Regions from separate parts of the Homo sapiens genome. Here regions 1, 2 and 3 are each linked to region 4. Evidence: fine-mapped expression QTL. A gene starts in region 4. Each other region holds a variant in brackets. All regions are shown on one strand. Distances are from middle to middle. Region 1 overlaps STK32A (serine/threonine kinase 32A). Region 2 overlaps STK32A (serine/threonine kinase 32A). Region 3 overlaps STK32A (serine/threonine kinase 32A). Region 4 holds the start of STK32A (serine/threonine kinase 32A).

The links. PIP is the estimated chance that this variant, and not a neighbour inherited with it, causes the effect.
Region 1: its variant is the best candidate, but not a certain one, in a credible set for the expression of STK32A in thyroid (GTEx, PIP 0.54).
Region 2: its variant is the best candidate, but not a certain one, in a credible set for the expression of STK32A in tibial nerve (GTEx, PIP 0.89).
Region 3: its variant is the best candidate, but not a certain one, in a credible set for the expression of STK32A in pancreas (GTEx, PIP 0.89).

What each region holds. Positions count from the first base shown.
Region 1 is chr5:147,297,571-147,300,262 of GRCh38, reverse strand. The region is part of intron 4 of STK32A (serine/threonine kinase 32A); the gene reads right to left. Among named protein-coding and RNA genes, the nearest start is that of STK32A, 64 kb to the right of the region's middle. The variant C/T (reference allele first, on the strand shown) is at 1,110.
Region 2 is chr5:147,327,012-147,329,703 of GRCh38, reverse strand. The region is part of intron 5 of STK32A (serine/threonine kinase 32A); the gene reads right to left. Among named protein-coding and RNA genes, the nearest start is that of STK32A, 93 kb to the right of the region's middle. The variant C/T (reference allele first, on the strand shown) is at 1,236.
Region 3 is chr5:147,285,116-147,287,807 of GRCh38, reverse strand. The region is part of intron 4 of STK32A (serine/threonine kinase 32A); the gene reads right to left. Among named protein-coding and RNA genes, the nearest start is that of STK32A, 51 kb to the right of the region's middle. The variant C/A (reference allele first, on the strand shown) is at 1,308.
Region 4 is chr5:147,233,438-147,236,129 of GRCh38, reverse strand. It overlaps STK32A (serine/threonine kinase 32A), which reads right to left and starts at 1,104. Exons shown (of 13, transcript NM_001112724.2): 1 at 931-1,104. It overlaps STK32A-AS1 (STK32A antisense RNA 1), which reads left to right and starts at 1,271. Exons shown (of 4, transcript NR_147190.1): 1 at 1,271-1,417.

The sequences.
Region 1 (2,692 bases), 64 kb before region 4:
ATTTTAGCTCCTTTGAGCCTCAGTTTCTTCAGGAATAGAATGGGAATAATAATCCCTATCAACCAGGTTGTTATGATGAATAAATGAGATAATATATGTAAAACCCAAAGTAATAGAACACTACTAATAGGGAAGTTAATATTGTTGATGCTGTGGCTCTGAAGGCCACCTTGAGTTCTTATGGTTTATAAACCCATGAAGAAATGCTAGCACTCTGAGTCACATATGATGGAGGCTGCTTCCAGGAAAGCCACTGAGAAGAGAGAAATAGCTCAGAGAAGGCTGAGCTATATGAACTATGCAAAATGTGTCAGGCCCAGAGAGACAGGAGTATGGGACTTCAGTCATATCCCCACACTGATGCCTGGGATTTTGTTTCTGACTAGCTGCCTGGCTCATTATCATCGTGATCCTGGAATTTGTGATACAAAGAATAACGTGTAGCCTATCAATAGCTTACGTTACTTTAACGTAAATTTTTGGCGAACAAGTTAGAAACTGCCTCTTCTTTTTTCCGTAGAAACCCACTTGTCGCTGCTGTTAATTGGAGTATATTCAGGGCAACTTGAATCTATGCTCCCGGATAACAATTTTCAAGCTTTGAGCCCCAATAAATGCTATACTTAATCATATTTTCTGAATCTTGTTTCACGTTGACATTTTACCACCCCAGATGGGATCTAAAGTGGAGCTTCAGTGATCCCCTCAAGTTCGTGACAATTGGAATGTTGGTACTGTCAGAGGCGTGTGAACCAGAGCAACTCCATCTTAAATAGGAGCTGGGTAAAATGAGGCTGAAACCTACTGAGCTGCATTTCCAGACAGTTAAGGCATTCTAAGTCACAGGATGAGATAGGAGGTCAGCACAAGATACGGGTCATGAAGACCTTCCTGATAAAACAAGTTGCGGCAAAGAAGCCGGCCAAAACCAAGATGACGATGAGAGTGATCTCTGGTCGTCCTCAATGCTACACTCCCACCAGCACCATGACAGTTTACAAATGCCATGGCAATGTCAGGAAGTTACCCTATATGATCTAAAAAGGGAAGGGAATAATCCACCCCTTGTTTGGCATATTATTAAAAAAACCATAAAAATGATCAACCAG[C/T]AGTCCTCAGGGCTGCTCTGTCTATGGAGTAGCCATTCTTTTGTTCCTTTACTTTCTTAATAAACTTGCTTTCACCTTACTCTGCAAACTTGCCCTGAATTCTTTCTTGCGTGAGATCCAAGAACCCTCTCTTGGGGTATGGATCAGGACTGCTTTCCTGTAACAGTACCAGAATCAACAGCTTGGTTCACCCAACCTCACCAGATCTGGCAGCCATCTCGGTATCCAAATACTCCCAGGTTAGTTGAGGATTCAGACTTTATTCAAGCCATACACATTCTTAACTCTGCGGGATTGGAATTGAAACTCTACTGAAAGACAGGAGTTTCATGTGTTATTCTCTAGAGATTATATTTACTTTGTTTTGTGATTTTCACTTTTCTCTGAAGTTAAGGTTTTCTTTGTCTTATTCATTAGAGTTTGTAACCTTTCCTCTAATACAAAATTTGGCCAAGAAGAATATAGTTTCTCTTGAAAAATAAGTAAATCTTTGTGGCTTAAGAAAAAACAAGCGTAGTTTTTAAAACTGGCCAGATTCTGAAGGCAGTTCAACTATCTAAAACTGAGGTTTCCTCCTTAAGAAGAGATCCACCATTAGAAATGCTAGCTCGATTCATACTGAATACTTACCATGCCTCTTCATGCAAATATTTAGAAAACTAGTAGAGCATAACTCAGAATGATTCCAACTGACAATGGCCAAAATGTGGTACCTTTTAAAATACCTAAATTAGTTTGTTTGCACACACAATTAGAAAAAGCTAGTTTTAGAACCAAATTGAGTGAGAGACTTACTTCCAATAGTACCTACAAGTTTCTAAAAGAAATCCTAAAAGAAAAAATTGCCTCCATTCAAGAGGTGAACAAAAGTATGTTTGAAACTATTTCTAAATTTAATAAGATTTTGGAGGTTTTCTCTTTCACCTCTAACTGCTCCATCTCCTCCTACTCCTGTGATCTAAACTCATCCCTTTCTGCTCATTCCCTCAGCTCCCATCCATCTCCTAGGAAGATAATTTTTAAACAGAGAGAACAAATGAAACAACTACAGAACAAGAATGATACTACAGAGATTATAAAAATACAGATCCAACAAACTTTTGTCTATACCAGGTCTAATGAATGACACTGATGATTTCTTGACCCAACATCAGATAGTATTTTTTTTTTTTTTTGAGACAGAGTCTTGCTCTGTCACCAGGATAGAGTGCAGTGGTGTGATCTCAGCTCACTACAGCCTCTACCTCCCAGGTTCAAGCAATTCTCCTGCCTAAGCCTCCTGAGTAGCTGAGATTACAGGCACGTGCCACCACATTCAGCTAATTTTTTGTATTTTTTAGTAGAGACGGGATTTCACCATGTGAACCAGACTGGTCTCAAACTCCTGACCTCAAGTGATTCACCCGCCTTGGCCTCCCAAAGTGCTGGGATTTTAAGCCAGCACATTTAAGTCACCATGCCCGGCCCAGACAATATCCTTCAAATGCCCTGCTGGACTTCACAATCCCTTGCAGATACAAATCTCATCATATCTTTGAAATATTAACATGCAGGAAATTAGCTAAACAGCATTCCAGCTGTGA
Region 2 (2,692 bases), 94 kb before region 4:
GAGGTATAACCATGAGCATTGGGAAGACGCAACTAAGCATATTGTGTGTGTGTGTGCGTGCGTGCACGTGCATGCAGGCACACATGCATCGCTCAGGATATGCACATAACAGCTTTCATTCTTTATGGCACATGCCACAACATTTAAAAGCCTTTTGATATTAATGTTGAAGTGTTTACTTGACTATTTTTCACACTATAATATTAACAACTTCTTATGACAGGGGGATTGTCTTCTTCCCCATGGGAGCCTGGCATTCAGAACACTGGCAAATAGGTACCCAGTAAATAATTTTTGAATAAATATTTGGACTAGAAGCATTATTCCTAAGATTTTTTTCTTCACTGTCAAGGTACTGATTTCTAGAAGAATGATAGGAACATCTCATAAGCAGCTACTCCAGCCCAAGAGGTCATGTGTGAGAAATAATTTCTATCTGCATCTTATACAGTCCCTAAGATGAATCTGGAATCAGTTATTGGTTCCAATGAGAACAGCAAAGAAGGCAAAGGTGATAAATAAAAATACCATCCTGTGTTTTTCTACACAGCCATAAATCTTCTTTTATTTCTCTTCAACATTTCGGTACTCAATGGGAAATGAAATTTTTGCAACTCTCTCTGTTGTACTGTAATTACTTGCACAAATTACTCTAATCAGATTTTTTATCTCATTCCTATAAAAATTTAGCAAACAGTGAGTTATAACCTCGTTATAGTGGGGGGTAATTCTCAGAGGGAAAAAACAATCAACCATCCTCTCAAATGGTATTTTGACCCAAAATGACTTACTATTTAATTGTCCCATACAATCCATCTCATTAGCTTAAATTCATAATTGAGTCTACTTTAAGATCTGACAAGGGAGTAAACAGAAATTTGTCTTTGGATTATAATATTAAATAATTACTTTCCACCAGATTGTTCATTGGAGAGGCTGAGGCAATCAACAAATAGAATAGTACTAACCCTGTAGAAGAGATTGTAATGAGTTTTGTTTCCCTTATTTTTTAAATAAAAGCAAATAATCACTTTGTCCCTAATTTAAAGCATTTATTTGCAGATTTCAAGTAAGCAAAAGAGAATATTATACTTCAAACTGGCCATTCTTTGGAAACTAAAGCTGATTTTCAAGCTGTACTCACACAAAAAGTTTGACTTCTTGACTAATAAGAAAGTTGTCTAATTGCACAATTCAAACTTAATGGTTATTATGCAACCCTGTGTCTTTAACAA[C/T]GATAGAAAAGAAAGATTCTGAAATTGAAGAAAACTAGCTGAATATTCTACATATTTGGGAAACTACCAAAAGTTCAAGTCCATGGATTTTTAAACATCCACAAAATAAAACTCCATTTATGTCTTAATGGGGATTTGTGGCGGAAACAGATCTTATGGTTTTTTTTAAAACATCACTACACTAGACATTTCTGGCAGAAAAGCTGAAGTGAAAACAAAATTTTAAAAAGACCCCCTTCTATGTTAACACAGGGAAACAAGTGAGGACTTCCATCCATTGAGCTCCTCTTGCTAGGCTAGACTTGCTGTGTGCTTTGGCTGTTAAAAGTCCCATTTACACCCTCAGAGCTCTCATGAGACTTGCTTTCTTACTCCCAACCAACTTCTCTGAAGTACTTGTCTTTCTTACACAATTTAGCTTCTAGTTTTAGGCTGTTTTCTGTATGAGCTCTCATGAAACTTATTTTGCGACTCCACACTATCTTCTCTGAAGTACTTGTCTTTCTCACACAATTTAGCTTCCAATTTTAGGCTGTTCTCTGTCTGTCCGTTCCACATGTACCACTTTCGTCTGTGGGTGCCTGAGGCAGGTGGCCATGCATAGGTGTCCCGTGCTCCCCTCAGAGCTGCAGCCATGCTGAGCATCTGCAGGCTGGAGAGTGGTGAAGAGCTCTGCATTTCCTAAACATGATGCTTTCCCTACTTAATAGCCATGCAAACTTGGGCAAGTAATTTTTCAGAACCAGAGTTTCATCGAAGGTGAAATGGGGACAAAGTGCCATAAACCTCCTGGAGCTATGGGAAGACTGAGTGAAATAACTCACAAGTGCTTAGCAGGCAGCCTGGTACCCAGGAAACCCTAAGCAAACAGCAGCCTACTGCTGCTCCTACTTCCACGTAGTGCTGACTGTTTACGGGTAATTTTGAATCTTCTACCATGTCCAAAGGCAAAATGTAGATTTTAATCTAAAAGTAGGAAGTCACATATTTTATATCTTCAGTTTTATGCAGATGGTCTCTCCTTGTCCGGGAGATCTACTGTACTTTCATTGATTCTTTTTTTCATTCTCACTTTTAATTTCTAGGAACTCAGCACATATTTTACAATCTAATCTTTCTAAGTAACTAAAAGGTGTTTTGTTATCTTGAATTCAAGTACAACATGAATCGGGCTGATTCTTTTGAAGAAGGAGGTTTAAAAAAGAATTACAGTATTCAGAAGCCTGTATCTCTTCTGTATTGCTTTTTGCACTCTCTGGCCCAGGAGTTCTTAGTCTCAGATTGACAAAGTTATTATCATTTAAATTCCTTAAACAAAGGGATCACTGCTTCTTTTACCATGTACACTTTTTAAAAAGCTATTTGACACCATTTCAAATTGATATCTGGTATTCTGAGAGCAGAAAATCCTGGTTATCAGAACACTGTCAGAATTAAAATGTCTATTTGAAGCTGGG
Region 3 (2,692 bases), 52 kb before region 4:
GGAGGTTGTGAAGTGACAGTATCTTGTCATTCTCAGGATGCAGAGAGAGGGGAAGAAAGGCAATTTGATGATTGCTAAGGGTAGGGAAGAAAGAGCTGCATCCATTTTAGCTTTTTACATGGCAGCATTTTGAATAGGCCACTCTAAGATACTGATTAAATACACTGAGCTTAAGCTGAAATTAGACTCTACCATATCCGAGTAGTGCATAAACTGTAATAGACCTATTTCCAAGTCACATAAAACCATCTTCTTTTCAACTGTGGCATAGAGGCTTTGAGCAAATTGTATATTAAATGAACTGTAATAATTAAAGATGGATGGAGGCAGGTTTTATGTACTGATTTCTCCAGAAGGATGTCCCTAAACACAGAGTAAAACCTCAATTATTTTTCCATTAGCATTCTCTGAATAAAGACCCTTTTTTTTCTTTGCTGGTAAGTCAGAACTTCTTGGTATGCATATTTAAATAACAGTCATCCTGAATTAGCTTTAAGAAACACCACTTAACATAATGGACGCATTAAAATGTAAAATAAAATGAAGGTGACACACAAAGACCTTGACACACAAGAAAAGAACAGGAGGTAACAGATACTGCAAGCTTCTCTGCCATTTTCTATGCCTTGGATTATGGAAATAGCTTGGAGCGCAGATCACAGTCACTTAATGTCTAGTCATTGATACAAGTTAGCTTCAGCTCTGCAAAAGCTATTTGTTGACAAAGGAAGCACCTATCCTTGTCTAACTTACAGGTATATATGTGGCTGCCTAAGAAATACGCTACAAAGCAACAGTTTTATTGCCAGTTATTTTAAGGGAGAAAGTGCTTCGTATAAATTCTAAATATCAACCTCAAGTCAGCTGATGAGGCCAAGCTTTGTAACCAAAGTTCCTCCCGTGCAGTTCATGGGGAAAGAAAGTATCTAATAACTAGTAAGACATCTGAACTCCTTCCCAGTCAGCATATTTAATTACAATGTTTAAAAATATATATATATTGACCTCAAGGACAAGGGGAACTGTGACAACTGACCAAGAAGTATTTGTTAGTGACAATAAAAGAAAAATGTTCTTTCACTATAAAGCCAAAGAAACTAAGGAGAACAAAAGACCCTGAGGAAGATCCTAATGAGAATTTGACAAATGCTTGCCTAGAAATCAAGATGCATTTATGTAACAGTAGGGATGAAGATGAAAGTGAGACAAGAATAATAAAGGGTGGTAGCAGGAGAAAAGAAAATTCCAGACAGCAGTTTCACATGACTAGCAAAAGGAAAATGTTGAAACAGCTGCATAAACTGGGA[C/A]TGATAAGAACCTGAAAAACCAGGGTGTAAGCCAAGCTGGCTAAGTCCGACTAAACCTAATGTGGTGCTGGATTATTTTTCCATAAGTTATTGGGGTAAAGGTGGTTTTGGTTACATGGGTAAGTTCTTTAGTGGTGATTGTGAGATTTTGTTGCACCCATCACCTGAGCAGTATACACTACACCACATTTGTAGTCTTGTATCCCTCGCCCCCCTCCCACTCTTCCCCCTAAGTCTCCAAAGTCCATTGTATCATTCTCATTGCTTTGCATCCTCATAGCTTAGCTTCCACATATCAGTGAGAACATATGATGTTTGGTTTTCAATTCCTGAATTACGTCACTTAGAATAATAGTCTCCAATCTCATCCAGGTCACTGCAAATGCTGTTAGTTCATTCCTTTTTATGGCTGCATAGTATTCCATCATGTATACATATACCACAGTTTCTTTATCCACTCATTGATTGATGGGCATTTGGGTTGCAACTCTGTGCTCTGTAAACATGCATGTGTAAGTATCTTTTTTGAATAATGACTTATTTTCCTCTGAGTAGATACCCAGTAGAGGGATTGCTGGATCAAATGGTAGTTCTACTTTTAGTTCTTTAAGTAATTTCCACACTGTTTTCAATAGTGGCTGTACTAGTTTACATTCCCACCAGCAGTGTAGAAGTGTTCCCTGTTCACTGCATCCATGCCAACATCTGCTGTTTTTTGATTTTTTTTTTATTATAACCATTCTTGCAGGAGTAAGGTGGAATCACATTATGGTTTTGATTTGCATTTCCCTGATCATTAGTGATGTTGAGCATTTTTTCATATGTTTGCTGGCCATTTGTATATCTTCTTTTGAGAACTGTCTATTCATGTCCTTAGCCCACTTTTTGATAGGATTGTTTTTTCCTTACTGATTTACTTGAGTTCATTGTAGATTCTGGATATTCATCCTTTGTCAGATGTATAGATTGTGAAGATTTTCTTCCACTCTGTGGGCTGTTTGCTGACTTCCGTTTGCCATGCAAAAGCTCTTTAGTTTAATTAGGTACCAGCAATTTATCTTTGTTTTTATTGCATTTGCTTTTGGGTTCTTGGTCATGAAACCCTTGCTTAAGCCAATGTCTAGAAGGGTTTTTCCAATGTTATCTTCTAGAATTTTTATAGTTTCAGGTCTTAGGTTTAAGTCCTTAATCCATCTTCAGTTGATTTTTGTATAAGGTGAGAGATGACGATCCAGTTTCATTCTCCTACTTGTGGCTATTCAATTATCCCAGCACCATTTGTTGAAAAGGGTGTCCTTTTCCCACTTTATGTTTTCATTTGCTTTATCAAAGATCAGTTGGCTGTAAGTATTTGAGTTTATTTCTGTGTTCTCTATTCTGTTCCA
Region 4 (2,692 bases):
GAGGTGTGGTCTTCTAGGATTGGAAAACATAGGAGGTGATGCAAGAAAGTTGCAACTTTTGATTAAACATTTTAGGTTTCATTGTCACAGAATGTGCATAGACACAACTTATTTTGTTTGCATTTGAAAAACAGAACTTCTTAGTTTAAGAAATATTTTAAAAATAGGGGGCAAAAACATGAAAAATGCCCAAGTTAATAACACTCTCAGTTAACAATTGTTTATATTTGGTCATCTTTATATCATCATTTTTATTTTTAAAGCATTTTAGGGAAATATTATTTCCACCTTAATCCTAAAGTCCAATTGATTTCCCTTTCACACTTTCCAAAGACAGCCACAATCACGGATGTGATAAACATTTTACAGTCCCCCTTCTATGATTTTACAAACATGACAAGTGTCTTAAAATAAGTCACCTAAATGGCATGAGAGAGTGGATATATTTTGCATCTTGCTGTGTCTATCTGCCATCATACTTCTGAAATCTAGGTACAGGCATGCTGATCCCTACAGCTCTGATTTTAGCTTTTTAAGTGCTGCATAGCAGTCCGTTGTGTGAATACACCACATTTTATTTTTTAAGTCCTGGGGGAAAAAGTCCTTGTGGAGATGAAGCAATCATCAAAGGCAGCTAGGTTTTGCTTGTTTAGATGCTGGAGAACAAGCAGAAACACCTCCACTCACTTGTCTCAACCCAGCAAATATTTATTGAAGTCTGTCTGGGTCTGCACATGAGTCAGTGCCAGGCAGGGGAACCTGGATGGAGTGCAAAATAGCTGGAATTGGCCCTAGCCTGCATTTAGTTTTGTGAGTTATCTTGATCAGCAGCCTTTGTCTTCTCTTCTCCTTGCACTTCCTAGCTTCCCAACAGTACCCTTAGTATGCAGGTTTATTGTTATTATTCGTTAAATCTAGACCACCACTCACCTAGTCTCGATTCTTCCTTCATTCCTCCCATGAGGCTCGGAGCGATGCTTTCATCCAGGGAACAGGGACTAAGAGAAGAACTCCAAGAGCAAGGAGCAAGAAAAGGCACCTATCTGCCCGGAAGCGGCGGAGGCTGCGAGCGCCGGGCTGGGCTGGGCTGGGCTGCGCTGGACTGAGCTGGGCTGGGCTGGGGAGGCACCTGCGGCTGCCAAGGGGTCCGAGCGCCGCCCAGCGCACAGCTACCCCGGAGGGGCGGCTCCTTGGCCAGGGAAGGAGGCGGGATCTGCTTGCCAGCGGGCGTCTCCGCTTAGCGCTCTCTCCAGAAACCGCTGGGCAGTCTCCTGGGTGAGCGCCAGACGCCTGGGGTCCGTTTGCCGCCTGCTGAGACTAGACAAGGACCCCGGGAGGGCGACGTTGGGGGAGAGGGCTACGGATGGAGGTCCCGCCGCGCTTGGGCCGGGTCCGGAGCCACCAGGACGCACAGCGGGTACTATTACGCCCCATATCACGGGAACTGCCTCACCCCCCCTGCGATGTGGATCGTAATAGCCGGGGGGGGGGGGGGGGGAGAAGGGGGGTGCTATTACTCTCCATATCGCCGGGGGTGCCTCACCCCCCTGCGATGTGGATCCTAAAAGCCGGGGGGTTGAGGGGGAGAGGGCGGTGCTATTACTCCTCATATCGCGGGGGAAGCCTCACTCCCCTGCGATGTGGATCGTAATAGTCGGGGGGGAAAGGGGGACGCTATTAATCCCCATATGGCAGGAGGGTGCCTCACACCCCAGCGATGTGGCTCGTAGTAGCCAGGGAGGGAGGGGGGGTCCTATTACTCCCCATATGGCGGGGTGTGCCTCACCCTCTTGCTATATGGGAATTAATAGCATTCTCTCCCCTCTTGGACATTAGAAACAATTTCACAGTGTGTGTGTACACAGCCTGCGATATTGAAACTAACAGCATCCTATCCACCTCCGGTTATTAGGAACAATATCACAAAATGGTGTACACTCTTTGCGAGACTTGGAGTTCTATCGTGCTGTGTTTCCCTGAATATTCGTAGAAATGTGACAGCGTGGGTGTACACCCACTACTATATTGGGAGTAACTTCGTACTCCACCCCCTGGAAATTAGGAGAAATATCACGGAAGGGGTGTAAAGCCACTGCGATATTTGAAATAATATCATGCCCTCACCCACTAGTTATTAGGAACAATATCACAGGACGGTGTATACCTTCTACAGTATTGGGAGTAATATCATCATCTCTTTCTTTAGATATTAGGAACAATATCAAAGGGGGTTGCACACCCAGTGTATTATTGGAAGTAATATCATTCTCTCTTCTTCTAGATTTTAGGAATCATATCACAGGCAGGGTGTACCACCCTTATTATATTAAAAGTAATGTTATCTCCTTTCGACCTGGATATTAAGAACAATAAGAAATGCGTTCTGTACATCCTTTGAATATTGGTAGTAATACCATCTTTTCCCTTCCTGGATTTAAGAAACAATATGACTTGTGGGGTGTCCACCCCTTGCAATATTGGGAGTAATATCACCTCTCCCCATGAGGTTATTAGGGACAAAATCACAGGGTGGGTGTACACTTCCTACGTTATTAAGAGTAATATCATCCACTTTCCCCCTTTATATCAGGAACCATATCACAGAAGAGGTGTACACCCCCTGTGATATTGTCAGTAATATCATCTCTTCCCCCCTGGATATTAGGAGCAAAACCACAGGGGGGATGTACAC